Linked DNA regions of Homo sapiens: region 1 is linked to region 2. The links come from fine-mapping of genetic effects on gene expression. Tissue or cell type: fibroblasts. Region 2 holds a variant in brackets; the other region holds the start of a gene. All regions are shown on one strand. Distances are from middle to middle. Region 1 holds the start of DSP-AS1 (DSP antisense RNA 1). Region 2 overlaps DSP (desmoplakin).

Region 1 (15,858 bases), 22 kb before region 2:
TTTTGTCTCCTGCTTTAAATGTTAAGATCAGTGAAGACAGAAATCTGGACGTTTTTCTTATTCTTTAGTCTCCCGTATACCTACACCTCTATCTGTAGCAGGGAAACAATGTATGTGCAATAACTAGCTCATGATGATAAGAAACAAATGGTTTATGAAATTTGTTGTTGCTGATGCCTAAGATTTTGAAAGGTGGTCACTTTGGAAACCAGGTTACATTTCGTTGGCATTACAATCATCCAAAGTCAGATCATTTATGTCTTAGTGTCCATTTTGATTTCATGATGTTTAGTATATGAATCTCTAATTTCATTTTTTCTTAACAATGGAAGCTACATTCAAACAAAACAAAACAAAACAAAACATGCAAATACATGCACTGTAATTTGAGGACACCAAGAAAATCACCACAGCTTTGGGAATACAACTAAAAAAAATAAGAGTAGCTGGATGTGGGAAGATCACTTGAGCCCAGGAGTTTGAAGCCAGCCTGGGCAACATAGTGAGATCTCTAAAAATAGATAATAAATAAATAAATTCATTAATTCAATAATAACTGTAATGCATTTTGGTGTGACTTCTGCAAAGCAGGCTTATTACTCTAGTGGAGGAAAATAACAATTGAGGTTGGGTGTAGTGGCTCATGCTTGTAAACTCAGCACTTTGGAAGGCTGAGGCAGGAGGATCACTTGAGGCCAGGAGTTCAAGACCCGCTTGGGCAACATAGTGAGACCTCACCTCTACCAATAATAAAAAAATTAGCTGGATGTGGTGGCACATGTCTGTGGTCCCACCTACTCAGGAGGCTAGGTGGGGGAATCGCTTGAGCCTAGACAGTTAGGGTGTAGTGAATCCGGATTGCCCCATTGAACTCCAGCCTGGGCAACAGAGCAAGACCCTGTCTCCGGAAAAAAAGTAAGAAAATAACAATTGATGGGATAATTTCTTGGTTTCAAGTTGATACCAAATCATTGCTCAGAAATGTGTTCTTTCATGACTGATGGGACAGGAATTTTGACATAATGGAAAGGGCATGAGACTAGAAACAGATGGAATTCTGCTATTTTAGGTATCAAGTAACTCACGGACGTTTCTTAACTTCTCCAGGACTCACTATTTTCTCTTTATTAAAAGGTGAGTTCTGGTTTATATAGTGCTTACATTGGGGACATGCTTTCCTGGACAGAGCACGTGTGGTCCAGGTGCAGCGGGTGGGAAGTGTCCTACAACCACTCTGGCACCACCATGATCTGTTTCCACTGGTGGCCATGCTCAGGGGGTTTCATTTGGAGAATGAGTTCTGAGGCTTTACCAGTTTTTAAATAACTGGTGCAAAAATGTTTTAAGCAAGCTTCTGTTTCTGAAATTCTCTATGGAATATAAATGTTGAGTGCCTTCAGTAAAGGATGATTAGCTATTCAAAAGTTTCTTCACGTAACCATTAGCACATTATATCTCCATGTGGTGTTTGCTGATAACTGGGTTTACTAGCAATAATCTGCATCTTGCATTTGTATATATATAAGTTTGAGTAAGTGTTCCAATCCTAGCATGTTCTATAGATTGAGAGTCCCTCACAATCATGATAAGCTTAGAAAATTACTTCCAAAGTATTTTCAAAAGGTAAACTTACTTGGCTGTTGTATTATATTTATTGACTGTGTGGCTTACCCACTAAAGTAAGTGGGAGTTATTGTTTAGCTTTAGATGTCACTTGGCCATGGGTGTGAGTGGCTCCTCTGTGGTCCATAGCGGTACTTGCCCTCACCGGGAACTTTAACCTCCAGCCTCGCATCTTGCAAATCTGGGTGCTACATGAAAACAGGATCAGGCAGGAAAGTATGGATGAATCCCCAATATCCATGCTATCCAATGAAAAGCAGTCAAAAACTTACTCTATTTTTTTTCTTTTTGGAGACAGGGTTTCACTCTGTCACCCAGGCTGGAGTGCAATCGCTCAATCTTGGCTCACCGCAGCCTCGACCTCCTAGGCTCAAGCGATCTTCCCACTCTAGTCTCCCCAGTAGCTGGTGTATACGGCCATGCCAGGCTAAGTTTTGTATTTTGTATTTTTGTAGGAAGGGGGTCTAACTATATTGCCCAGGCTGGTCTCAAACTCCTGGGCTCAAGTTATCCTCCTGCTTCGGCTTCCCAAAGTGCTGAGCTTACAGGCATGAGCCACCGTGCCCGGCCCAAAAAACATATTCTTAAAGCACAATGGATAGCACAATTTACCTGTGCCAAACACAAACCAAATGGCAACAACAATAACAATAAAAACTCATCACTTCAGTGACAAAAAATGAGAAGTTCCTTTGAGCTATTTAATTTCCACAAAGTTAAGTACCCTCCCCCAGCAAAAATGAAAAATCACTGCAAACAGACAAACTCCCCTGTTCCTGAATGACACTTAAACCAAGTAAACCAAAGATAGTTTGGGGTTAATGTATATATTTTACAAACATTTTCCTATTTTTGAAACGAGCTTTGTCAAACAGCTTTCTTCATTTTGACAATTTTAATTAGGAGAGACCAATCTTATTTTTGTGATAATTCAGATCCTAGATTCATTATTTCTGGAGGATTCTAATTTATTCAGACAAATGGAAGAGAAAAGAAAGAGTAAAATATACATATCCATTTTATTATTAAGATTTTAATTGTCTGACATTTTAACAGGCATTTTCTTTTCCTTCACATTATGGTTCCAATCCTAGCTTCTGCCTGTAATTTTGACTTATTAAAATACTACTCCTTGGCCGGGCACTGTGGTTCATGCCGGTAATCCCAGCACTTTGGGAGGCCAAGGTGGGTGGATTGCTCGAGCCCAGGAGTTCCAGATCAGCTTGGGCAACAAGGTGAAATCCTGTATCTACAAAAAATACAAAAATTAGTCCAGTGTGGTGGTGTGCGCCTATAGTCTCAGCTACTGGGGAGGCTGAGGCAGGAGGATGACTTGAGCTCAGAAGGCAGAGGTTGTAGTGAGCCAAGATCATGCCACTGCACTCCAGGCTGGGCGACAAGTGTGAGACTCTGTCTCAAACAAAACAAAACAAAACAAAAACCCCAGAACTACTCCTCTGTTAGGCAGAACAGTTATTTTAACTCATGGGCTATAAATCTTCTTGTGATGAAGAGGTATCATTTACCAACACAAAGATATAGAGAGTTCCCATGGGATTTTGAGCAAGTAAATGATTCTTCTTAATCTCACTGAAATCAAAGTGTCGTTTTCTTTTAAAAATCTGCTCTGAATATGACTGATTCGTCTTTCCTAACTGCAAGGTGATTTCTAAGGTCAGCCAGAGAGAAAGTTGCCTGTCAGTGATCTGTTTTATCAGTACAAGGGGAGCTATCTATGAGTGGCAGGGAAAAAATAGCTGACCTTAGGTCAGCCAGTGAAGACTCTGCCAGACTTTGGATTCTGATTTTTTAAACCAAGTTGTAAGAAAACAAGCTACTTTTAAACCTCTTTGCTGCGCTTTCAAAATTCTATAAATATACCTTCATTATAGCATACTTAATGTTGTATTGTAATTATTTGTTTTACTACTGCAGACTTTGATATCCTGCAGAAAAAGAGTCATGCTTTATTCATCTTCATGTGTCTAGCATTGAATCTGTTGTGTAACATGGTAGATGTTCAATAACTGCTTTCTAAATGAATGCATCTTAAATGTGTCCAAGAGGGAGGTTTACTGATTTACATGTGGGATAAAGACAGGAACATTAACGGTTAAAATTTCGCATCCAGCAAAGAACTTTTGGCTTAACAGGTGGTACCTTAAGCTTTATATGTTTCACAGTGTTCAAGAATGTTCACGTATTTTATCTCATTTGACCCTCACTGTGGATTTGGAAGGTTGGCAGAGCAAGTGTTATTTCCATTATACACATGAAGAAATTGAGCTCTTGCATAAGTAAATTGTAGCACTAAGATTATAACTATGGGCAAGTTATCCTCGCTCTTCACTGTGTGATGAGCCAACCTGGACAACTGATGTGTGTGTGTGTGTATGTGCATGTGTGTGGGTGTGTGTTGAGGTGGGGGGTGTTCCATCTGTCGGGCATGTCAATCTGTTTATTTTATCCTCTTATCTTTCTTTATCACCCTTAGAGAAAGATAAATGAAAGCCACTGTCTTCCTAGAGCAGGCATGTTTGGTAGCTGGAAGCCGTTCGTGTTCTTGGGGATGCCTGGAAAAGCCCAGGAAGCAGTAAGATGGGTGAGGAAGCAACGCAGCCAGAGGTGTGATTGGTGGCGTGGGCTCTTCGCCTCCTCCTCTGTTTTGCCTGCAGATTGAACAGTTTTGTGAGTCTGGGTGGTGTTTGGGTCTGTGTGGAGCCTGGTTCCTATGACCGTAAGGGGACCCTTGGCTAACAAGAGCTTTTGTTACCACTGGGGGGGTGGTTAATAGATATGTGGGTTTTTTTTAAAAGGATAATTCTACCGTGCAATTGTGTAGCCTCTTTATTACACATTAGGGAAGAATAATCCCTGAATTTTTTTTTTTTTTTTTTTTTTGAGACAGAGTCTTGCTCTGTTACCTGGGCTGCAGTGCAATGACACGATCTCTGCTCAATATAATCTCCACCTCCTGGATTCAAGTGATACTCGTGCCTTTGCCTCCCAAACAGCTAGGATTACAGGCGCCTGCCACCACACCCAGCTAATTTTTGTATTTTTAGTAGAGATGGGGTTTCATCATGTTGGCCAGGCTGGTCTCGAACTCCTGACCTCAAGTGATCCACCCGCCTCTGCCTCCCAAAGTGCTGGGATTACAGGCATGAGCCACCGCACGGGCCCCTGAATTTCTTAAATCAAAGTTTTACTATAATATATTTAAGGGCAGTGACTGGACCCTATTTATCTTTGTATGTTGCAGAGTATTTCCATATCCTAGGTTATAATTATTTGCTGAACAAATGAGATGCATAGAGGGAAAACATCCTAAATGAAATGTTGTACATTATGCACTGACATTTTCCCTCCATGCATGTCTTTCTCTCCTCCACCAATGGATATTATGGGCTGTTTGTGCAGAGGCTGACTTCCAGCCATTGATTCTGTTTGAGAAAAACCACCGTCTTGTCTATAGATCAGTGTTTGTACAGGTTGAGCATCCCTAATCTGAAAATCTGAAATCCAAAATGCTCCCAAATCCAAACTTTCTGAGCACTGACATGATGACCACAAGTGGCGAATTCCACACCTGACCTCATGTGATGACTTGCAGTCAAAGTGCAGTCAAAACTTTGTTTCATGCACAAAATTATCTAAAATATTGTATAAAATTACCTTCAGGCCATGTGTATAAGGCATATAGAAAACATAAATAAATTTCATGTTTAGGCTTGAGTTCCATCCCCAAAGATCTCTCGTTACGTCTATGCAACTATTGCAAAATCCAAGAAAATCCAGAATCCAAAATATTTCTGGTCCCAAGCATTTTGGATAAGGGGTACTCAATCTGTATAATCATTTAAACACTTGACCACTTTGGTTTTATTAAAGATTCGAGGAAATTGAGACTACGATGCAAATTATTGGTTGTGCTAACAGTGATAAACTTTTATCTCATTATATGTGTTTACTCCTTGAATTTAAGACGTTCAGCTGTAAAAAGAAAAAGAACAAGACATTTTGTCAAAAATTATGCCTAAAGGGTCAAGTTGTCATGAGAAGTGCTATAATACGACAAATTTTAGAAAGTCCCCCCCACTCCCTTTACAACATAAAAATGTAGTTTTTTATTTTTGTTTTCAGTTCATAAACATTTTGGAAACGCACTGTATCAGAAGGTAATTAGCGGCATTGTTTGGAAAGATGAAAAATTTATTAGAAAAGATCTTTAAATGGCTTTTACTAAAGCGTCATTTAACAATTTTTCATATTATAGAAACAGCTTTTCATGGATGGTGTGACTGGGTCTGTATCCAAACCCGGTTCGGTTCCTGGAGCCAACGGCGTAGTTAACACTCAGCCTCTTGCAGTTAACACTCAGCCTCTTAACTGGGAGTGGCCCTGGAGCAAGTCGCTGGAATGTTCAAGCTCCGCGTCACTCATCGGTACCAAGTTGATGATCTCTGCCTAGGGTTCTTCGCCACCCTCAGGCTCAAGTCCCAGGAGGCCTCCTCCGCTGACTTGGGTGAACAGCTCTGAGTTCCGGAGAGGGTTCGGTCTGCGGAGAAGCGCGCGAGAGACAAGCATCCTCAAGGTTCTGGTACAAAATTTGGAAAATGGACCTGGCGTTGAAATCTTTACTCCTCGTTTAAAAAGACCATCGAAAGGGAAAAAATAAAAGAAATTGCAGTTTATATTTTTGTTATCCCATGAAAAATTAGCTGCAGTGTTTTCCTCTTCATGCCAAAGAGATTAATATTTACGGTGAAGACTTTTCCAGGAAGTCGTGGTTTTCTGTAAAAAAAGGTTTTACACATCAGAAATCGGACTTCTGGGGCAATTTCCTGAATTCCTGGAATAAAACAAAACAAAAAAAAGCCCCCAAACAAAACTCTATCATCTAAAGCGTTCCCTCCTCACTGTGGTCCTAGTCAATGCGTGGTAGGTAGCGTTTCCAGTGATCAACAAAAGTAAATATTTGACCAGTAAGTCTCCAATCGAGAGGCCCCTCCATTCCAGCTATTTCCGCCCGGGGACCGAGGAAATCCTCAAAAGCCGGGCCACGCATTCCCAGCCCGAGAGGCCCCAGCGCAGAGCGCAGCAGCCCCCGCGAGCGCAGGTCCTCCCCGCGGTGGCTTCGCCCAGGGCGCTTGGGTCTCGGGGACCCCGCCCCCGCCCCGCCCGGTGTTACTCAGGCCTCGGTGGCGCAGGGCGGAGTCGCGGGCGGCGGGCGCAGGTGGGGAGGGGCGGCCGGAGCGCGTCGGTGACACCCGCGGGGGGGCGGGGAAGGCGCGGCGGCCGCACCCCACCCTGGGAAGAAACCGGCCAGGTGTGGCCTAGGCGCCCAGTGCCAGCGGGGAGGAGACTCGCTCCGCCGCCGACCAACACCAACACCCAGCTCCGACGCAGCTCCTCTGCGCCCTTGCCGCCCTCCGAGCCACAGCTTTCCTCCCGCTCCTGCCCCCGGCCCGTCGCCGTCTCCGCGCTCGCAGCGGCCTCGGGAGGGCCCAGGTAGCGAGCAGCGACCTCGCGAGCCTTCCGCACTCCCGCCCGGTTCCCCGGCCGTCCGCCTATCCTTGGCCCCCTCCGCTTTCTCCGCGCCGGCCCGCCTCGCTTATGCCTCGGCGCTGAGCCGCTCTCCCGATTGCCCGCCGACATGAGCTGCAACGGAGGCTCCCACCCGCGGATCAACACTCTGGGCCGCATGATCCGCGCCGAGTCTGGCCCGGACCTGCGCTACGAGGTGACCAGCGGCGGCGGGGGCACCAGCAGGATGTACTATTCTCGGCGCGGCGTGATCACCGACCAGAACTCGGACGGCTACTGGTGGGTACCTGCCCGGAGAGCGCGGGCTGCGGGGCTCGCGGGACAGGGAGGGACCGTCCTCCTCTGGACGACTGGGAGACTCGGGTCCCGAAGGTGGAAAGGTTTTTTTGCCCCAGGTCCCGAAAGAACTTCCCGGCCGCGCTGGGAGCAGGACCGGGTGTCCTGACGCGTGCGGGGACAGGTTGGCCCCTGTCCTGCGAACAGGGACTCGGTCGTACCTTTCTCCCCTCCCGCGAGCCCGGGCGGGTGGTCAGAGGGGGCGTCGGGCCCGCGCGGGGCTGTCCCCTGCCTGCTGGACACGGCTGCAGCCGCCTTTGTCCCAGCCCGCGAATGGGAGGTCAGGCGAGGTGGGGCTGCGACCACAAAACCCAACCTCTCCAACCGTAATCAAAGTAAAAGAGGAAAGGAGCGGGGCCCCGGTCCTGTCTGGTGGCCGAGTGGTGCTCGGGGCTCCGCAGTCTCTACCGGCTCACCCCCAATCCCCAGTAACCCCGAGACCACGACTGCAACGACTCCTGGACTCCTCGGCCACCCAAGGACGTTTGTATCAAGGCTGCGCGTCCCGGCGGCGCGGGGTCCTGTCCCGAGGAGGCGCTTCGGCTTCCCCTGTCCGGGAAACGAAACTTCCCCGCCGGGGCGGCTGCCGGGCCCGGGTCTCGAAGTTCGGCCGGGACGTGCCTGTTACCTTCGGTCGTCCGCGCCGCAGCCCCCGCGGGCGAGCGCACCTGGGGCCCTGCCTCTGAGCCTTTTGTTTCCTCCTTTTTAAAAACACCGGATGAAAGACCCCAGTGTGCCTTGGATCGCAGAGCGCCGGCCGCATGTCTGCTTTGATCCAGAATGTGTGGGCAGGGGAGTGGGGGGGTGGGAGAGGACGACGCTGGGGGCCCGCCCTGGCCTAGGCGCCCCGGGAAGACCCCCCGGTGAGAGGGTCAGCTTCTCCGGATCCCAGCGGAAACAGACCGAGGGCGTCATTTGGGTGGGTGGGGAAGAGATCCTGTCCCTGCTTTGACCGGGTCTCGGGAGCTGGACTCTAGATGCCCACGTGAGCCGTGCGCGTTTTGCAGCCCGCCCCACCTCCCCGCCCCCTGCTAGTTGTTCCCACGTCGGGCTTTTGGGAAAGAGGCCCTGAGCGCCGGGACGTTATTTACCAGGCGTTGTGGCCCTAGGCCTGGGAGGAGCAACCTGAATGCGCTCCAGGGAGTTTTGTTTTGCAAGCAGTTTTGAAGGCAGGGACTACTCGAGTTGCAACCTGTTTTCTGCTTAGATTCATTTATTTATTTATGGGGCATCCTGAAAATCTATTTTCGCTTTTTTTTTTTTTTTTTTTTTTGAGTTAGCAAAGAATTGTCTCAATCTTGGAGTTCTTTGTTTCCTGAACAAAATGTGTCTGGGGATTTCCAGGGAAAATGTGCCAAGCAATAGAAGGAATGAAAACTTGGGTTTTCATTACATTTGTTTTAAAATTTTGCCAGCCATTTAAATCTGAAATTTAAATTTTCTCCCGCAGTCCTCCAGGATTTGAGATGCACATCCTTTAAATGTGTGGGTTACACACAGTTTAAATCCAAGTCAGAATAGAATGCGAAGGACTCTTTAGTAGCTCTTTTTGGCGTTTTCATGAACCAAGTATTTATTTTGATTATTATTTATAACTATGCTTTTGCTAGCTTGGATTTCTTATCTTTTAAATAGACAATAATCAGTACTATTAATCGAATATTTCACTCCCTTGGCTTCTTATACCTTTTGTAGGGGAGTAAAACTTTAATAAATTAAGTGGTTAATGAACTGCATCAAGGTACATGTTTTATTAGGATTCCCCATTGAAACATTTAATTTTGGGCAGGCTCCATGTTTTTTCCTTGTGTAGTATCATCCCGTGCTCTGTTTTTCCAACTTAAAGCCTACTTACAAACTTGTCAAGTCTCACATCTCTCTGGGAAGGGGAAAGAGACCCAAGTGAAAAATTACCTGACTTTGAGGAAGGATGTTTTTTCTTCTCATTAATGTTGCTCTGCCCGGCAGCAGGGCGTCAAGCTCAGGGCTTGAGTCGGGAGGCGGTCATTCTTTCCGGGGATCCTGGCAATGGAGGTTCCTCTCGAGCCTGACCCAGCCTGCAGTGGTGCTACTGACTACAAAATAGCCCACAAATGCTGACTTCTGCGTTTTCAAATAATAGCGACCGCCTGAAGGCAGGGCATGTCGCAGTTTTTCTGGTGGCATTCTGGTTTTGTGTGGAGGGATATGTTTGGCTGTGGCGTGCACTTTGTAGAAGCAGGGTGCCCTCTGTGCCCAAGGGAGCCACTGCTCTCTGCTAAGTGAATGATGATTAAGAATTTCATAAGTATTTTTCTGACCCGAAGGTTTTCTAAATAAAGGTTTTTGTGGTTTTCTTTTCTTTCTTTCTTTTTTTTTTTTTAGCATGAAAACTAGTATAAAAACTATTGGTTGACTTTAAACTCATTTATTTCAAAAACTGCTACTTTATGGCTGAATTATTAATAGATTGGTGATTTTTGAGATGAGTGTTTTGTATCTAGCCCTTCCCTGAATAAAGAAATTTGAATGTGTGGAGGGCCCAACTCTTAGTTTTCCTTTGAAAATGACTTTAAAACATCTCTCTCTCTCTCTGTCCTTTCCACGAACAGCACTTACCCGTTTTTAGGACAGTATTAGATCTCATTGTATCCTAATTCCCTCTTTTTCCCCCGACCACCTGCCTGTTCTTTGTGTCTTTGTTTTAGATTGAATGGAATCTGCAACTACTTAATTTTGTTAACATTTGGTAAATGTTACAACCTTGATAATGAAATAATAGACATGTACATGTTTTGAAATGTAAATTTTGGATTCTTCTTGGATAGGACATTATATTAATACTGTTTTCAATTACAGCAGAATTACTCTAGTCTTATTCCTGTCATTAAAACAAATTATAAATAGTGAAATTTGTTACCAAAGTAACAAAGTCTCACAGTTAGATCTTTCTTTCACCCATCAAAGGGTGAATTTGTGGGAGGATTAAAAGCAGAAAATAGTCATTAAGTTTCAGAAATATGTGGTTATAATATTAATGCTTATTTTTCTTCAGATCTCATGATTTCAAAACTGAGATACGTGTGATCATTATTTCATATACATTTTAAAGTTAGTCTTAAATTAGGTTTTAAGAGAAGCTTATTTCTTACTATGAGACAAACAGGTCAATTTGCCTGAATTTTAGAGCGGGGGGACCCCTAAGGATCACTTAGCCTAGGCAGAAACCCCACACGCACACTTCAGAGACAGGAAGCTGAGGACGTGCCGAAGATCCTAGAATCCACTTAGGGCTGGGTTGGCCTGAGGACCCAAGGATCCTCACCTTGGTTTTCCCTGTGCCTTCACAGCCTGACTTTTAGAATGGACAGGCCTGTAATTACACCATGCAAGTATCTCAAATTCCATTAATTCCTTAATTCAGCAAGTATTTACCGAGCATTGACTGCATTCTGTGTTAAGTGTCAGGGGAGATCAAGGTGGAAATCTATAGCCTTGAAAGGAGTGTAGGCCCTTCCAAGGAAGATAAGTACACGAAGACTAGCACGCAAAAGCGGAATGCACAGGAGGGGTGTACGTGACTTCAGAGACTTCACAAGGAGGTGAGAGAACATCTGTCGTGGGGGCACTGGGAAGACTTTATAAAGGAAGTGGTGTCGAACTAGACTTTGGAGTATTTCAGCTGTGTCAGGATGGGTGGGCAGAGAGCCTTCCAGAGGGAGAGAAGAGCATGAGAAAAGTCTGCGAAGCCTGTGGAGTGATCTCCTTTTAGAGCATTCTCTCTGAGCAGGGAGGCAGTAAGATGAAAGGAAGAAGCATCCTTTTTTGACCAAGGCATTGGAGACCTTGAATGCCCCGGAGAGGGATTTGGATAGGCAGAGGGAAGCTGGTGCAGGTTTTCACTGAAGCCATTGAAAGTCTCCTCCATTGGAGGAGCAGGGAAGTGAGACGATCATAACTGAGCTTCTGGACTGTTTAGGCGTTGGCTTAAGGAAGCCATTGCACCAGTGAAGGAGGGAGGGAATGAAAGTCTGAACCAGGGTGAGGGCAGTGGATGGAAAAGTAGGTATTGCCAAGGTGGAGTGACAGCTTCAGCTAAGAATTGGATGCGAGAGACAAGGGAGAGTCTGAGAAAACAGGCCCAGAGCTCGAGTGACTCATAGCGTAGATAGTCTAAACACTTTTCTGGGAAATTATTGCAAAGCAAGATTTAGTTTAGCTTAATATACGGCAGGTAACATTTACATGGTTATTAAATTTAACTTGTATATTTTATAAAAATATCAGGTCTGTGGTTAATAATAGTTACCATTACCCAGCAAATACCTGTGATGTGCCTTGTATAGGATGTTTGTTATCTCAAGCCTCATAACAAACTTCCCAGTTTACAGATGGGAAGCTGAGGTTAAAATATTTAAATGGCTTGCCTAAGGTCACACAGCTAGTTAAGTTGTTAAGCTAGATTTGAATCCAGTATACCACAATGACGCAAGAGAAGATTAAACCTGCAGTGTGAGAATTCACCTTTTCTACTTGTAAACCCTTTTCTATCTGAGTTATTACTTATTTTTAATCTGTTGAATTCCTCAGTCTGCGTTCCTGTGAAATATTTCATAATCATTGTATTCTTTCATTAATACTCTTGTAGAGTTTCTATCTGCTTAGGAAAAAAGAAACTCAATTTGATTCTGCATTAAGCCAACTAATTGTTAGTCAGATCTATTTAATGGGACAATACAGCTTTCAACAGTCATTTTTTTCTCTAAATATGGGCATAATTTCATTGTTCAGGTAATGGAAGTGTCTTGGAAAGGGAAAAACTGCTGATGCCCCTGATGCCTCAGTGCTGACTTCTTAGGGTGGAGCAAAGGAGGGCTTGGGTGTGAGACTTGGAGAGTGTGTCTTGACTCTCAGCTAACCAGTCTTTCCAGACCAGGAGGTTCTAGAAGGAGTGGTTTCAGTCTGGAGGCCTTGTTGCTGCAGCTGGGAGCAGTGCCTCACCCCTTGATTTTCTCCATCTCCCTCCCGCTGGGCTGGTCCCAGTGGCCCTGCCGCTTGAAAACGTTCAGATGTGGTTCTGATTTTGAAGTCACGGCCCCACAGATCCTAAGACTCAGACATGAGCTGCTCATTTGAGGTGACATCTTGTAAAATACTAGTGCAGTCCAATAATTTATGGCTCACCACCGACACCTTGGGCTGGAAGGGCTCATGAATGTGAAATCTACATTTCATGAAAATGAAGACAGTTTAGTGAGAAGCTGCAGCAAACAGATCAAAGGTTCTGCTTGGAATTACATTTTGTTTGTTTGTTTGTTTGTTTTGAGATGGGGTGTTGCTCTGTGGCTCAGGCTGGAGTGCAGTGGCATGATCATAGCTCACTGCAGTCTTGACCACTCAGGCTTAAGTGACTCTCCCACCTCAGCCTCTCGAGTAGCTTGGGACCACAGGCGTGCGCCACCATACACAACTAATTAAAATTTTTTTTTTTTTTTTGTAGAGACAAGGTCTCGCTATCTTGCCCAGGCTGGTCTTGAACTCCTGGGCTCAAGTGATCCTCCCACCTTGGCCTTCCAAAGTGCTAGAATTACAGGCAAGAGCCAGTGCACCTGGCCTTTGAATTTTCTTACCCTCAATAAGTTTCTTTCATGCTGCTAAAGTGTATCACTCTCTGTGAATTGTCTCAGTTATTTTTGAGTCTTGTAGGGAACCTGAGGAACTCCTGAAATGCCTCACACTTAATACCCAATCCATTTCTTCCTTTTCCTCTTTCTCTTTTTTTTCTTATCACCCCGCCTCCATTTTGCTGCAGGACATCCTTAAAGTTATGGACTGGGGCAAAGACAAAACACAAAAACGAAATTTCTGCCGGGCGCGGTGGCTCACGCCTGTAATCCAGCACTTTGGGAGGCCGAGGTGGGCGGATCACAAGGTCAGGAGTTCCAGCCCAGCCTAGCCAATATGGTGAAACCCCGTCTCTACTAAAAATACAAAAATTAGCTGGGCGTGGTGGCGGGCTCCTGTAGTCGCAACTGCTCAGGAGGCTGAGGCAGAAGAATCGCTTGAACCCGGGAGGCAGAGGTTGCAGCGAGCTGAGATCATGCCACTGCACTCCAGCCTGGGCAACAGAGCGAGACTCCGTGAAAAAAAAAAAGAAAGAAAGAAATTTCAGAACCATAACAACAGCAGCAGCCTCCGCAAGTAAGAGCTATCACTAAGTGAGGTCTCCGCCTCTGCAGTGCCCCTCTGAGCCTCACCTCAGCCCCAGGAGGGGGGTGTTCTACCTGTCACAGAGGCAGAAGCTCCAGGCACTGCCAGTGGATGTCACTTTAAGTTGCTCAAGGTCACAGGCTGTATAACTGGAAGTGGCTGAGCTGGGCGTGGACTCCAACTGTGCCCTACTTCAAAGTCCTTCTGAAGTTAATGATATGTGATCAGTTTTCCACTATCCCACAAACACAATCTGCCAAACACACAGTGTGAAAATCGAGAAAACCGCCTGGAAAAGAAGCAGAACTTTTATTAGAGTACTGTTTCTGTAGCTGCTGGGCGAAGACAAAATGCAGGATCAAAGGAGGCTGTCTTTCTAAAATCTATAGAGACAAAAAATCCACCATGTTTGCTCACTGCTGGAGTGGGAATGGGGAGGGGAGAGCTGTGCTCTCTGGTTGAGCTTTTGAAATCAGGGTAATGAGATGAGCCATAATACCCTCAGATGGGTCTTTTGTTTGCCTTTGTTTTTCTTCCACTTTACTAAGCCAAACAAACATTCATTAAGTACCTTCTGTGTGCCGAACCTTATTTATGTTGTTAGGTTAAGTGTTTGTAGGAGTCCAAGATGACTAAGACATGGGACTTTGCTCTCCAGGAGCAGGTAGCCAGGTGTGTTTAAACTAATGCAAGAGAGGAGAGGATGCAGAGGTGTGATATGGAAAACTCCTTGCAGAAGGCTGTAACTTTTGAAGTTCTGAACTTTTGAAGGATGGCTAACACAGCATTTCAGCTGATGTATATAGAGAGTGTTTAATGAATTTTTTTTTTTTTTGAGACGGAGTTTTGCTCTTGTTGCCCAGGCTGGAGGGCAATGGCGCGATCTCGGCTCACTGCAACCTCCACCTCCCAGGTTCAAGCGATTCTCCTGCTTCAGCCTCCTGAGTAGCTGGGATTACAGGCATGCGCCACCACGCCAGGCTAATTTTGTATTTTTAGTAGAGACGGGGTTTCTCCATGTTGGTCAGGCTGGTCTGGAACTCCCGACCTCAGGTGATCCTCCCGCCTCAGCCTCCTGAAGTGTTGGGATTACAGGCGTGAGCCACCGTACCCGGCTAGTGAATCTTAGAGGTAAAGTATCATCCTTAAATGAAGTATTAAAAATATATTTTTCTTTTTATGAAAGATCCTTTCAAGAAACTCAAACAAAATAGTATATGTGAAAAATGCTTTGAAAATTATAAAGAGCTAAGCAAATAGGCCTCACGGTCAATATTAAAGCATTATATAACTATCATAATTCCTAACACACATTTCCTGAGTTTTTCCTAGGTAATTATTCTGTGAACCTGAAAACAGAGAGACATATGAGTCTTTCTGGCATATGTACAAGAGCCTGTGTTGACTGAATGAACAAAAGAAGAGGAGAGAGAGGAAGGGAGAGATGGAAAGAGGAAGGAAGGAAAGGAGTCCAGTTAGAGAGAAAATATATAAACAAAAAGAAAGGCAAAGTTAGGGGGCATGGTCCAAGTGTCTAATGAGCAACATAGTTATTATAAAAGTATTTTTATAAAACAAAGAGAGTAACTCTTCATTTAAAAACTTTGTTTTTGCCTATAATGTCCCTCTTTGAAATATTTGTCTTGTTTTTTTGTGTTTTTTCTTTATCTTTTTGAAAGTATGAACTTTTTTTCCTTTATCTTTCTGAATATTTTTATTTTTTTAAGACAAGGTCTTGTTCTTTCGCCCAGGTTGGAGTGCAGTGGTGCAATCTCGGCTCACTGCAGCCTCTGCCTCCCAGGTTCAACCATCTCATCTCAGCCTCCCATCTCAGCCTCCCGAGTAGCTGGGACTTACAGGCGTGTGCCTTCATGCCCAGCTGTTTTGTTTTTGTTTTTTTTTCTGTAGAGATGGGGTTTCGCCATGTTGCCCAGGCTGATCTTAAACTCCTGGGTTCAAGCAATCCGGCGGCCTCTGCCTCCCAAAGTGCTGGGATTACAGGCATGAGCCACGGCACCCAACCTTGTCTTGTATTTTTAAAAATAATATTTTTGGCAACACATGTAAAGCTAATGCCTTAGGACAGCTAGTTTTGGAGTCCTATTTTTAAAGAAAAATGTTTTTTTAAAGGTAGTAAAATAAAACCTTGAAATCTTGGTAATA
Region 2 (10,784 bases):
GGGGTCAGCCCATGTGTTTGTGTGACAAAGAGTCTTCTAGACCTCAGGTGGCGGCAGCAGCTTGCTGTTTGCAGGATTTTCCTCCTATACAATTTGAAAAGTGGTCTTCTATTTTGGAATGAATGAGATTTCAGTGTGGCTTGGGGAATCAGCCTCATTGCTTTATAGTCATCCTTTATCACACAGGTCATATTTAACATGTGTAATTTAGTTAGTAGACTTTGAATATCCAGTTCTTATATTGACCACCGGAAAGATCTGTTGTGGGAGTTTATGTGCTAAATAACTTCATTGTTCTATGTGAGTGGCAACTGACCTCATCTGTTTTACTCATAGGTACTTGAAAAAAAGCCCATTGTGGCAGTTCATTTAAAATGGTCATAGATTGGAGGAGCTGGAAACAGTGAAACTAGCCATTCTGGTTTAGGCTCATTGGTTGCTTACCTTAGACTTTTGAAGTCTCAGTTGTCTCATTGTGCAACCATCACGTCACCAGTGTGGGAGTGAAGCAAAATAATGTTGGAAGGATATGCTGATCCTTTCCCTAGAACTGGAGTTTCTGCAAAGTATTTTTCAAGACTAATGATTGTTGTGTTGTTTCATGTAGTCATTATGTCCTATAATGAACAGGTGGTGGTAGAAATATGCCACAATCATGTAGATGGGAATTTTATAATGAAAACCTACTCCTAACCCTTCCCTTGAGAATGTGGATGTGTTAGAGTGATAAGTTGTGGAGAGATTGTTATGCAATTTAGATGTGGTTGTAAGAAAGCTTGGTTTGATTAGTTGTTAGACTAATTCAGCAGTGGTTCTAAAATTTCTCAACTCCTTTAAAATTTTTGTGTATTCTTTCCTAAGTAGTGAGGACTTCAGTGACTAAACATTTATTCATTCATTCAGTTACCTTTTTCTCCCATTTATTATAAAGAATATAAGCTATTACAGAAGGTAAGGCTTAGAAAGAACAAAAGTCAGTTAAAATATCAGAAACCTAAATACAAATCTATTTGTATGTTTTTCAAATTTCCTTCTAATCTTCGAGCACATTTCTTGAGGATTTTATATGTAGTGCCACCCAAGGGTACAAAGATTATGGTCCCTAGTCCTGAAAATGAATGTTATCGAAGAAAACAAGATGCATACGCTCAAATGCCAAATTTCTGTCTAGATCAGCTATAATACATTCTTGCTTAGTTAGAGGGGAGGGTGGCCAGCTCCTGTGGAGTGGAACAGTCACAGGAAGACATAGCGGAGCTGATGGGGCTTAACTACATCTTAAGGATCCACAATGATGGGCAAAACAGCCTTCCAATCAAATTAGTTTGAAATGTCATATCTCCTAAAGTTTTCTTAGTATGACAGTTATAAAAAAAGACAGCCTGTAATTTGTCATTTTTTTGTATTTATGTTGGGTGTAGCTTAAGAATGTAGTAAATGCTCAATGTCTTTAAATTTTGGAAAAGTATTACCACATGAATTCAGTTTTATGTCATTTTCTTTTTTTTTTTTTTGAGAGGGAGTCTCACTCTGTTGCCCAGGCAGGAGTGCAGTGGCATGATCTCGTCTCACTGCAACCTCTATCTCCCGGGTTCAAGCAATTCTCCTGCTTCAGCCTGCCGAGTATCTGGGACTACAGGCGTGTGCCACCATGGCAAGCTGATTTTTTGCATTTTTAGTAGAGACGGGGGTTTTGCCATATTGGTCAGGCTGATCTCGAACTCCTGACCTTGTGATCCGCCCGCCTTGGCCTCCCAAAGTATTGGGTTTACAGGTGTGAGCCACCACGCCCAGCCAGTTTTATGTCGTTTTCTAACAGAAGCAATTGATAAGCGATGCTTTCCGGGTTAGGCACGCAGCCCTCATGGTTGCAAACAAACTAAAAGCTGTTTGATTGCTTACTGCAGGTTCGCTCTGGGATTTGCTGTGGCTCCTTTCCTCTTATCGCTTGTTCCCCTGCATGCTTTACCTCATTCCCAGGAGACTGAGCTGCAGGGCCCAGCTGATAAGGGAACTGTTGCCCCAGCAGCCAGTCAGGAGGCAGGCACTCCTGAGCCAGGTTTTTGTTTTGTTTTCCCGATTTGTGTTTGCCGATGGACAGGTCAGATACGATACACCTGGCTGGTAATGAGACGCCTGAGCTGGAGCCTGGTCACGTTGCTAATGTCCCACTGCACGCACCTGGCTGTCTCTGGTTTAAAGCCGAGACAGCTGTGGGAGAGAAGGGTCAAAGTCCCGGGTAACCTTCTGTTGTCTGACTCTGAAATGGCTCCCCTTTCTGAAGCCTTGCCAAGTGTATTAGAACATGGATGTGGCTTAGAACAATGTGTTTTATGTTCTTGCTGCAATCCCAGATTGGAATGTTTGCCCTTGGCATGTCCAAGAGATGACACAGGTGATTTGGAAATTTACATGTACTCATGCAAAAGAAGGGTGAGATAATGGACTTGCCCCAGTGTGGAACTGGCGGAACAGTGTGTGTGATTCTTATTGTGAAACATTCTTAAATTTGAGGCTCAAATAATAAATTTAGTCAGATTTAATTTTTTAAAAAAGGTAACTTAAGTCCACAATCCTAATATTGCCAACACTCATGGAAATTGAATCCTTGAGTAGATATAGTGACTTCCCTTTGAAGTGGCCCATAGGGAGTTTTGCATCCTAAAAGGGAATGGTATATCCTGGATTTTAAAAAGCCAATAATTACATCCATCAAGACAATATAAAGAAATAAACAATGAAAGATGCTTTTAGGTTGACTATTTAGTTTGGGGAACAGTGTATGATTGCATTTATTTAATGATTTTTTTATGCACATTTAAGAATGATTAAATGAGTATTTTATAACATATCATACATATATATGCACACATATGTTCTGTGCACATGCTTGCTTGCCTGTGCACAGGTAGATTTGGTTTTTTTTTTTTTTCAGAAGACATGATCTTGGTTTTCAGGTTCCCATTTCTAAATTTCCTTCTCTGCCCATCTTGAGCTGGGGTCAAGCAAGTTGAGGGAAGTATTTGGCAACCCTGCATTAGCCATTTGGGAACCTTTAAAAAATATTCTGGCTTCAAAAATACTCCATATTTACATCTTTGGTTCTATCTGAAGTAAAGCCGTGATGGTGTGCGTAAGTGAAACAGGTGCAAAGGGGCAACAACAAAGGGCGCCTCTCTTTGTCTTTGTGTCGCAGGCGGAGATGGACATGGTGGCCTGGGGTGTGGACCTGGCCTCAGTGGAGCAGCACATTAACAGCCACCGGGGCATCCACAACTCCATCGGCGACTATCGCTGGCAGCTGGACAAAATCAAAGCCGACCTGGTACTTGTCTGTGTTTCATTTTAGAGTCTTCAAAATATCTACCGAAGGATCGTGTAATTACTCAATCCCAGGGAGTTTCTTCTGAAACATTGCTATTATTTCTTTCCCAGAAGACTGGAAATGTTTAGAAATCCCACTTCTTAAATGGGGAAGTGGAATCAGTAGCCCTATTAGAGATTATGTTAACACTTGAAGAGGAGTTAAACCAGAGGCTGAGGTTGTGCAAACACTCATTTGCAGTTTGTGAATAAGTCTCTTTAGGGGTGGCAGTTTGTTTCTGCGGTAAGCAGAACATCTTTTTGAATAGGGGAAATGCAACAGTCTTATACAGTAGTTTGTGTCATTGGTGAATCCTTTCCTAGGTGGTAATTAAAACATTATTTCTACTGAGCAAAGCCATATGTCATCCCGACACCCGCTCCCATGCTGAAAAAAGTCAGACTTGAAACTGGGTTGAGAATTACAGCATAAAATCATAACTGATCTTAAGTGCTTAGTTTCCCGCAGGTCTCTACACTTGTAAATCACTAAACTTTTTTTTTTTTTTTTTACCTGAGACCATAGCTTCTCATCCTCATTTCTTCTTCTGGCTTTTTGGGGCTTACTTTTGTCCACCTGAGCCCCTGACCAACTTTCTCCTTCATTTCTCTAAGACCTAGGGAATCCTAAATGATGTCTTTAAACTTTAAGACAATTTTCTAACACGTGAGTCTTTAAGTGACCCTGATCTGGGCTTTCCTTTGTGGAGACGGTGCTGCCAGGCCAGCAAGGGTTTGCTTTCCAACCGCCTAGGAAAAAGTCCCCATGGGTGAAATATCTCATAGAGCTAGTAATTCTTTCTTTCTATGGAGGGATCTGAGGCCAGTATCTGAAGAAAAGGAGGCTTAGAAGGGCCACTCTTTTCTATACAATCCACAAGGGGATTTATATCTACCTGCTTTTTGTTGTCTTCTAGCGCGAGAAATCTGCGATCTACCAGTTGGAGGAGGAGTATGAAAACCTGCTGGTAAGCTGATTTATTTCTCAAGTGCATCGACTTTCTGTTGTTTCCAATTCAATTCAGTTCAAGAAATATCAAGCACATCCTGGCGGGGAGGCACCTGTTCATCGATGCTAATGTTGTTGCTGCTGCTGAGTTTCCTTTAGAAGTGAATTTTAAAAGTTGTTTTCTTTTCTTTTTTTCTTTTAAGTAGAGACAGGGTTTCACCATGTTCACCATGTTAACCAGGGTGGTCTCAAACTCCTGACCTCAAGTGATCCGCCCGCCTTGGCCTTCCAAAGTGCTGGGATTACAGGCGTGAGCCACTGCGCCCGGCCTAAAAGTTGTTTTCAGAAGTCAGTCCCTACTGCTGTTCTGTTTTCAAGTTGTGTCACATAAATGGCACTTGTTAAGTACTTGCAGTTGAAGCAAGAAAACGTTGCCACTTGTGAATTGTGGTCTTTTTTACGAAGTGTAAGCAAAAATAAAAGTTATTTTTCTCAAGATAGAGGTCTACCAGATCGTCATCACAATTTTATGACACTCAGTCATATCAGTTACTTGATTCATAAGAGGAGAGATTTCCATTCTTTTGCCTATTTGTGTCATCATATCTTTACTTTTTAATGTTTCCTTGTTGGCAATGATACTTTTTAAATAATGTCACTCGTGGTGACACAGTGATTTTCCTATTGGGCTGGGGTGTGACTTATGGCACTTTGAATTTTTGGGGAGAAGGTAGGAAAAGCTTGATTTCTCTAACAGTCCATTTTCCCCCTTATAGTCCAAAACTAATTATTGATGGGTACAAAAATACAGTTAGATAGAAGGAGTAAGTTCTAATATTTGATAGTACAATAGGGATATTATAGTTAATGATAATTTATTGTATATTTCAAAATAGCTTGAAGAAAATATTTGTAATGTTCCCAACACACAGAAAAGATAAATGTTCGAGGTGATGGATATCCCACTTATCCTGATTTGATCATTATACATTGTATACATGTGTCCAGATATCATGTGTACCCCCAAATATGTACAACTATATCAGTAAAAAATACCAAAAAAAGACCTTATTTAGAAGAATAAAAAAAATTTAAGGCCAGGTGTGGTGGCTCACGCCCATAATTCCAGCACTTTGGGGGGCCGAGGTGGGCGGATCATCTGAGGTTGGGAGTTCGAGACCAGCCTGGCCAACTGGTGAAACCCCGTCTCTACTAAAAATACAAAAATTAGCAGGACGTGGTGGTGCATGTCTGTAATCCCACCTACTCGGGAAGCTGAGGCAGGAGAATCGCTTAAACCCGGGAGGGGGAGGTTGCAGTGAACCGAGATCGCTCATGCCACTGCACTCCAGCCTGGGAGACGAGAGCGACAGTCCGTCTCAAAAAAAAAAAAGTTGCTGCCTTCTTGTTCATTGCAGATTTGGATGGGTCTTTTCCCATACCAGGTGGTCAGTGAATGCACAAGGTTAACATTTTTCCTATCCGTGTGATTTTTTTTTTAAAGGGACCACAGGTTTAATCTTTAAACCTGCAGAGAACACCAGTCACTGCATATTGTTATTTTAATGCTGCCTTTGAACCTCCTGTGCAGAAAGCGTCCTTTGAGAGGATGGATCACCTGCGACAGCTGCAGAACATCATTCAGGCCACGTCCAGGGAGATCATGTGGATCAATGACTGCGAGGAGGAGGAGCTGCTGTACGACTGGAGCGACAAGAACACCAACATCGCTCAGAAACAGGAGGCCTTCTCCGTAAGTTCACCCCACGCGGCTGTAGATGCTTGTCTTGAGCCTGTTGCCTTGAAGAGCTGGGGTCTCGGGGAATGATTGGTCTATTAATAATTTAATCAGCCACTTGCAATTCAGCCTTCTTTGAAATGGTCGTGAAAAATCCTTCCTTCCTGAAAACTTCTCCGTGTGGAGGCCATTATCCTTAGCAAACTTATGCGGGAACAGAAAACCAAATACCACATGTTCTCACTTAGGAGTGGGAACTAAATGATGAGAATACATGGATACATCGAGGGCAACAACACACACTGGGGCCTTTCGGAGGGCAGAGGGTGGAGGTGGAAGGAGGGAGAGGATCAGGCAAGATAACTAATGGGTACTAGGCTTAATCGTGGGTGATGAAATAACCTGTACAACAAATCCCTGTGATACAAGTTTACCTGTGTAACAAACCTGCACATGTATCCCTGAACTTAAAATAAAAGTTAAAAAGAAAAAGAGGGGCAATACCTTGTTTAATATCCCAGAAGACCGTAGTTTGTTTAGAGAGGATAAGAACTGGTACGTTCAGATAACCCAGGATGTGTGTGGCACTGCAGGAGGGTGGGTGGAAGCCTGGGATTAGAAAACCTCAGGATGGATGTAGCTCTTCT[T/C]TCCTCCTGTGTCATCTTGAGTAAGCCTCTGCCACATCCTCTCCTGTAGCAAACATCCTTTTCAGCCTTAAAAATGCTGTGATTCTTGAGGAAAACAGCGTGATTCTTTGGCATTGTTCATTTCCAAAATGCAGTTTTGTATTTCACTTTTAAAAAGTACTGTGGGGGTGATGGAAGTTTAATGATGACTTGCTGCAAAGGATTTCTTATTTCTTCATTCACAGATACGCATGAGTCAACTGGAAGTTAAAGAAAAAGAGCTCAATAAGCTGAAACAAGAAAGTGACCAACTTGTCCTCAATCAGCATCCAGCTTCAGACAAAATTGAGGTAGGCTTCATGAGGTTTATATTTTTGTTAGAAAAAAAAAAACTTTTCATAAAGTAAGACTAACCAAATGAGTAATTCTTATATGACTTAAAGCCGTGCCAACTTTATTTTCTATTTTGGGATCAATACCCTACACCAGGGGTTGGCAAACTCTTTTCAGGAAAGGACCAGACAATCAGTATTTTAGACTTTCAGGCCATTTGGTCTCTGTTACAATTACTTAACCCTGCTATTATAGTGCAGAAGGAGGCATAGACACTGTGTAAATGAATGAGTGTGCCTGTATTCCAATAAAACTTTATTTACAAATAGAAGTGGGCCACATGTGGCCCTTGAGCTATAGTTTGGTGACCGCTGCCCTAGACTGCCATCTTTGGGCCACGCTCAAGGCTGACATTAGCTGGTACCACTGGTATGGCCATACTGCTTGTTAAAAAACACAGAAAGTTCCATATCAGTTGGTAAGAATCACTGTCTTGAGCCCCCTAAGCCCTTTGCTTGGATGCCTCGAACCTCCCCATGATTCAGCAATCCTCCAGGAACAGGGCTCGGTGTGGCAAAGGGATGCCACTCCAGTGCTAGCCCCAGTGACAGTTCTGATTGGTCAGTATCTCTGCTATTTGGGTGATACATATTTTGACTAAGACTCCTCATGGTGTCTATTTGTGAAAGCTGATTTTAAAATTTAGTTTTGACCATACCAAGAGATATATGGTGAGAAATTCTCTTTCCAACTTTTAGAAAAATATCTGCTTGACTTAGAATGAGATAAAAACTGCTTACTAGCTTTCATGCAGGCTCACCTATCTCTTGGTGTTCATGCATCTGTACAACTGAGCTAGGCTAAGACAGCTGACATTTTCTTGTTTCAGGCCTATATGGACACTCTGCAGACGCAGTGGAGTTGGATTCTTCAGATCACCAAGTGCATTGATGTTCATCTGAAAGAAAATGCTGCCTACTTTCAGGTTTTTATATTTAGTGATAATTTTGTTGTTATTTAGGTCTTAATACCTAATCTTTTGAGTGTGTTTTATAAAGCACTGAAAATAATCTTCAAAATGTTGCATAAATCCTCTTCATTGATTTTGAGTGCAGAGTAGCATAGATTTGCAACCTTGCCATCAGTCCTACAAATAGTTTCCCGCTGCCACATACCTAAATACTTTCTGCACGAATTTTTTCCTTTAGCCACCTGTCAAAGAGATGTTTAGGGATGACAATCCTTGAAACAGAACTACTAGATGAAATTGCTCATTGAGTTGCTGTTCATTCACTGATCACTCTCATCCTTCACAGTTTTTTGAAGAGGCGCAGTCTACTGAAGCATACCTGAAGGGGCTCCAGGACTCCATCAGGAAGAAGTACCCCTGCGACAAGAACATGCCCCTGCAGCACCTGCTGGAACAGATCAAGGAGCTGGAGGTATCGTCTCAGACCCAGAACCTCAGCAGCTGTGCCTGATCAGGGAGATAAAACACATGCCTTGGATGCAGTTGGCTCTGATTAGTATTATTGTACAATGCACGCCCAGAGCCAAGCAAGCATTTTCTTCAGCTTCCAGTGGCTTTTCTCAAAATTAACTTCTTTACATGCCCAACTACTCTTGACAGTTACTTTTGCTTCAGTCTGGGCAATTGGTTGAAAATAAGAACAGAGAGAACATTACTTCACATGACAATTCCTTTGGGAACGCATACTTCAAATTTTATCAGCATAGCCCTTTCACACAAGGATGTTCTTCCCTGCCCACTTAATTCCTGCCTGCATAGCTTCTGGAGAGTGTTGTCATGAAAGGTTCTCATGTTTCCTGCCGACGAATTTGTGATTTTTTACAATTGATGCAACTGCAGTGATACTCAGTGTGTCATGTAGCTACATTAATGCAGGTTGAAAATCTCCTCTAAAACTCACAGGGTATCTATGTTTAAGTATGATTTTATTCACCATTGCAGAAAGAACGAGAGAAAATCCTTGAATACAAGCGTCAGGTGCAGAACTTGGTAAACAAGTCTAAGAAGATTGTACAGCTGAAGCCTCGTAACCCAGACTACAGAAGCAATAAACCCATTATTCTCAGAGCTCTCTGTGACTACAAACAAGATCAGGTGTGTACTCATTTAGAATGATACAAAAGTTTTCCCTGTCTTTACACACAAATTTTTGTCCATCAAGAAAGCAACATTTAATCTAGAGTTCAATAATCACCACAGTCAATGTCTTTGATCTATGAAATCAGCAGCTATGGAACAAAAGCAGCAGCTCTGTTCTGAATCATATGGTAGTTGTCAATAACAAGGACAGTAGTTATTTTTAGAACTTTTAAAAATTCGCAAGGCTTAATACTTTTCTTCTAGTATGTCAAAGTTGTCTGTGATCACTCTCATCTTTAAATTTCTGATAAAAGAAATGAGAAATGATGCTTTTATGTTGCATATAAAGTGAATGTCTCTCACTATGGGTGACACAGTGAGACCAAATAAATAAATAAAATGTAGCTCACTTCATGTATACCTTTTAGGCTCACATGTATTATTTAAAGCATCGGTATTGTTGGGTTGTATGATGATCAGCTTCATTTGAGGGGAAAAACGTAAAAGCTTTAATAATTCGCATGTGTTCATCTCTGTTTCCATCATTGAGAAAAAAAATAAAAACACATACTTATGAATAAAGCCAAACCCTGGGGTTGCTTGCCTTACAGAAAATCGTGCATAAGGGGGATGAGTGTATCCTGAAGGACAACAACGAGCGCAGCAAGTGGTACGTGACGGGCCCGGGAGGCGTTGACATGCTTGTTCCCTCTGTGGGGCTGATCATCCCTCCTCCGAACCCACTGGCCGTGGACCTCTCTTGCAAGTAAGTCATCCAAGTTCCCAAAGCCACGCATGCACGCATGAATGTGAGGGCAGAGGAAGAGGGCAGGTGTTTATACCTGAAGCTTAGACACACGATGCCTTGCCATAATAAACACCTTCTAAAAAAAGGAACCTTGTGAAGGTCACCTTCACTTTGTCTTGCAATTTTATGTTGAATAGACAGTCGTTATTGAAGAATAAAAGGGAATATCTGGCCGGGTGTGGTGGCTTATGCCTGTAATCCCAGCACTTGGGGAGACCGAGGTGGGCGGATCACCTGAGGTTAGGAGTTTGAGACCAGCCTGACCAACATGGAGAAACTCTGTCTCTACTAAAAATATAAAATTAGCCAGGTGTGGTGGTACATGCCTGTAATCCCAGCTACTCGGGAGGTTGAGGCAGGAGAATTGCTTGAACCTGGGAGGGGGAGGTTGCAGTGAGCTGAGATCGTGCCACTGCACTCCAGCCTGGGCAACGAGAGCAAAACTCCATCTCAAAAAAAAAAAAGGAATGTCTGACTGTAGTGGGGCCAGAGTGAATAATACTTGTCATGCACTTCAAAGGCATCATTTTAAGGTTCTCCTTTTCTTAGAAAATCAGTTGTTATACATGTAGCTACAAATATAAAATGCCTTTAATATCAATATTCACTCATTGTAGGAAGAACATTCGTTTAACAGGTTGTCCATGGCAGATTCCTTTAAACCATTTAGTATCGAAATCTTCAACCACACACTGAATAGGGAGAGTAGTGTAGTAAGCTGCTGTGTGCTCATGACCAAGCTTTGGGTCATTGGCATCTAATGCACCTGCCATCCTGCCTTAGACCTCTGTCAATTACAAAGTTGCCGAAAAACAAGACAACAACAAAAAGTTGTAGTATATATGTCAGCCAATAAT

The links. PIP is the estimated chance that this variant, and not a neighbour inherited with it, causes the effect.
Region 1: DSP-AS1 starts here. The variant in region 2 is fine-mapped to the expression of DSP-AS1 in fibroblasts (GTEx, PIP above 0.99).

Annotation. Positions count from the first base shown.
Region 1 is chr6:7,534,637-7,550,494 of GRCh38, forward strand. It overlaps DSP-AS1 (DSP antisense RNA 1), which reads right to left and starts at 8,447. Exons shown (of 2, transcript NR_183331.1): 1 at 8,410-8,447; 2 at 5,815-6,417. DSP (desmoplakin) reads left to right here and starts at 7,035. Exons shown (of 24, transcript NM_004415.4): 1 at 7,035-7,449. The coding sequence starts at 7,280. RefSeq lists an enhancer at 2,245-5,023.
Region 2 is chr6:7,559,456-7,570,239 of GRCh38, forward strand. It overlaps DSP (desmoplakin), which reads left to right. Exons shown (of 24, transcript NM_004415.4): 5 at 3,197-3,325; 6 at 4,281-4,331; 7 at 5,904-6,065; 8 at 6,922-7,026; 9 at 7,899-7,994; 10 at 8,326-8,451; 11 at 8,982-9,134; 12 at 9,731-9,885. Among named protein-coding and RNA genes, the nearest start is that of DSP-AS1, 22 kb to the left of the region's middle. RefSeq lists an enhancer at 1,472-3,047. The variant T/C (reference allele first, on the strand shown) is at 6,698.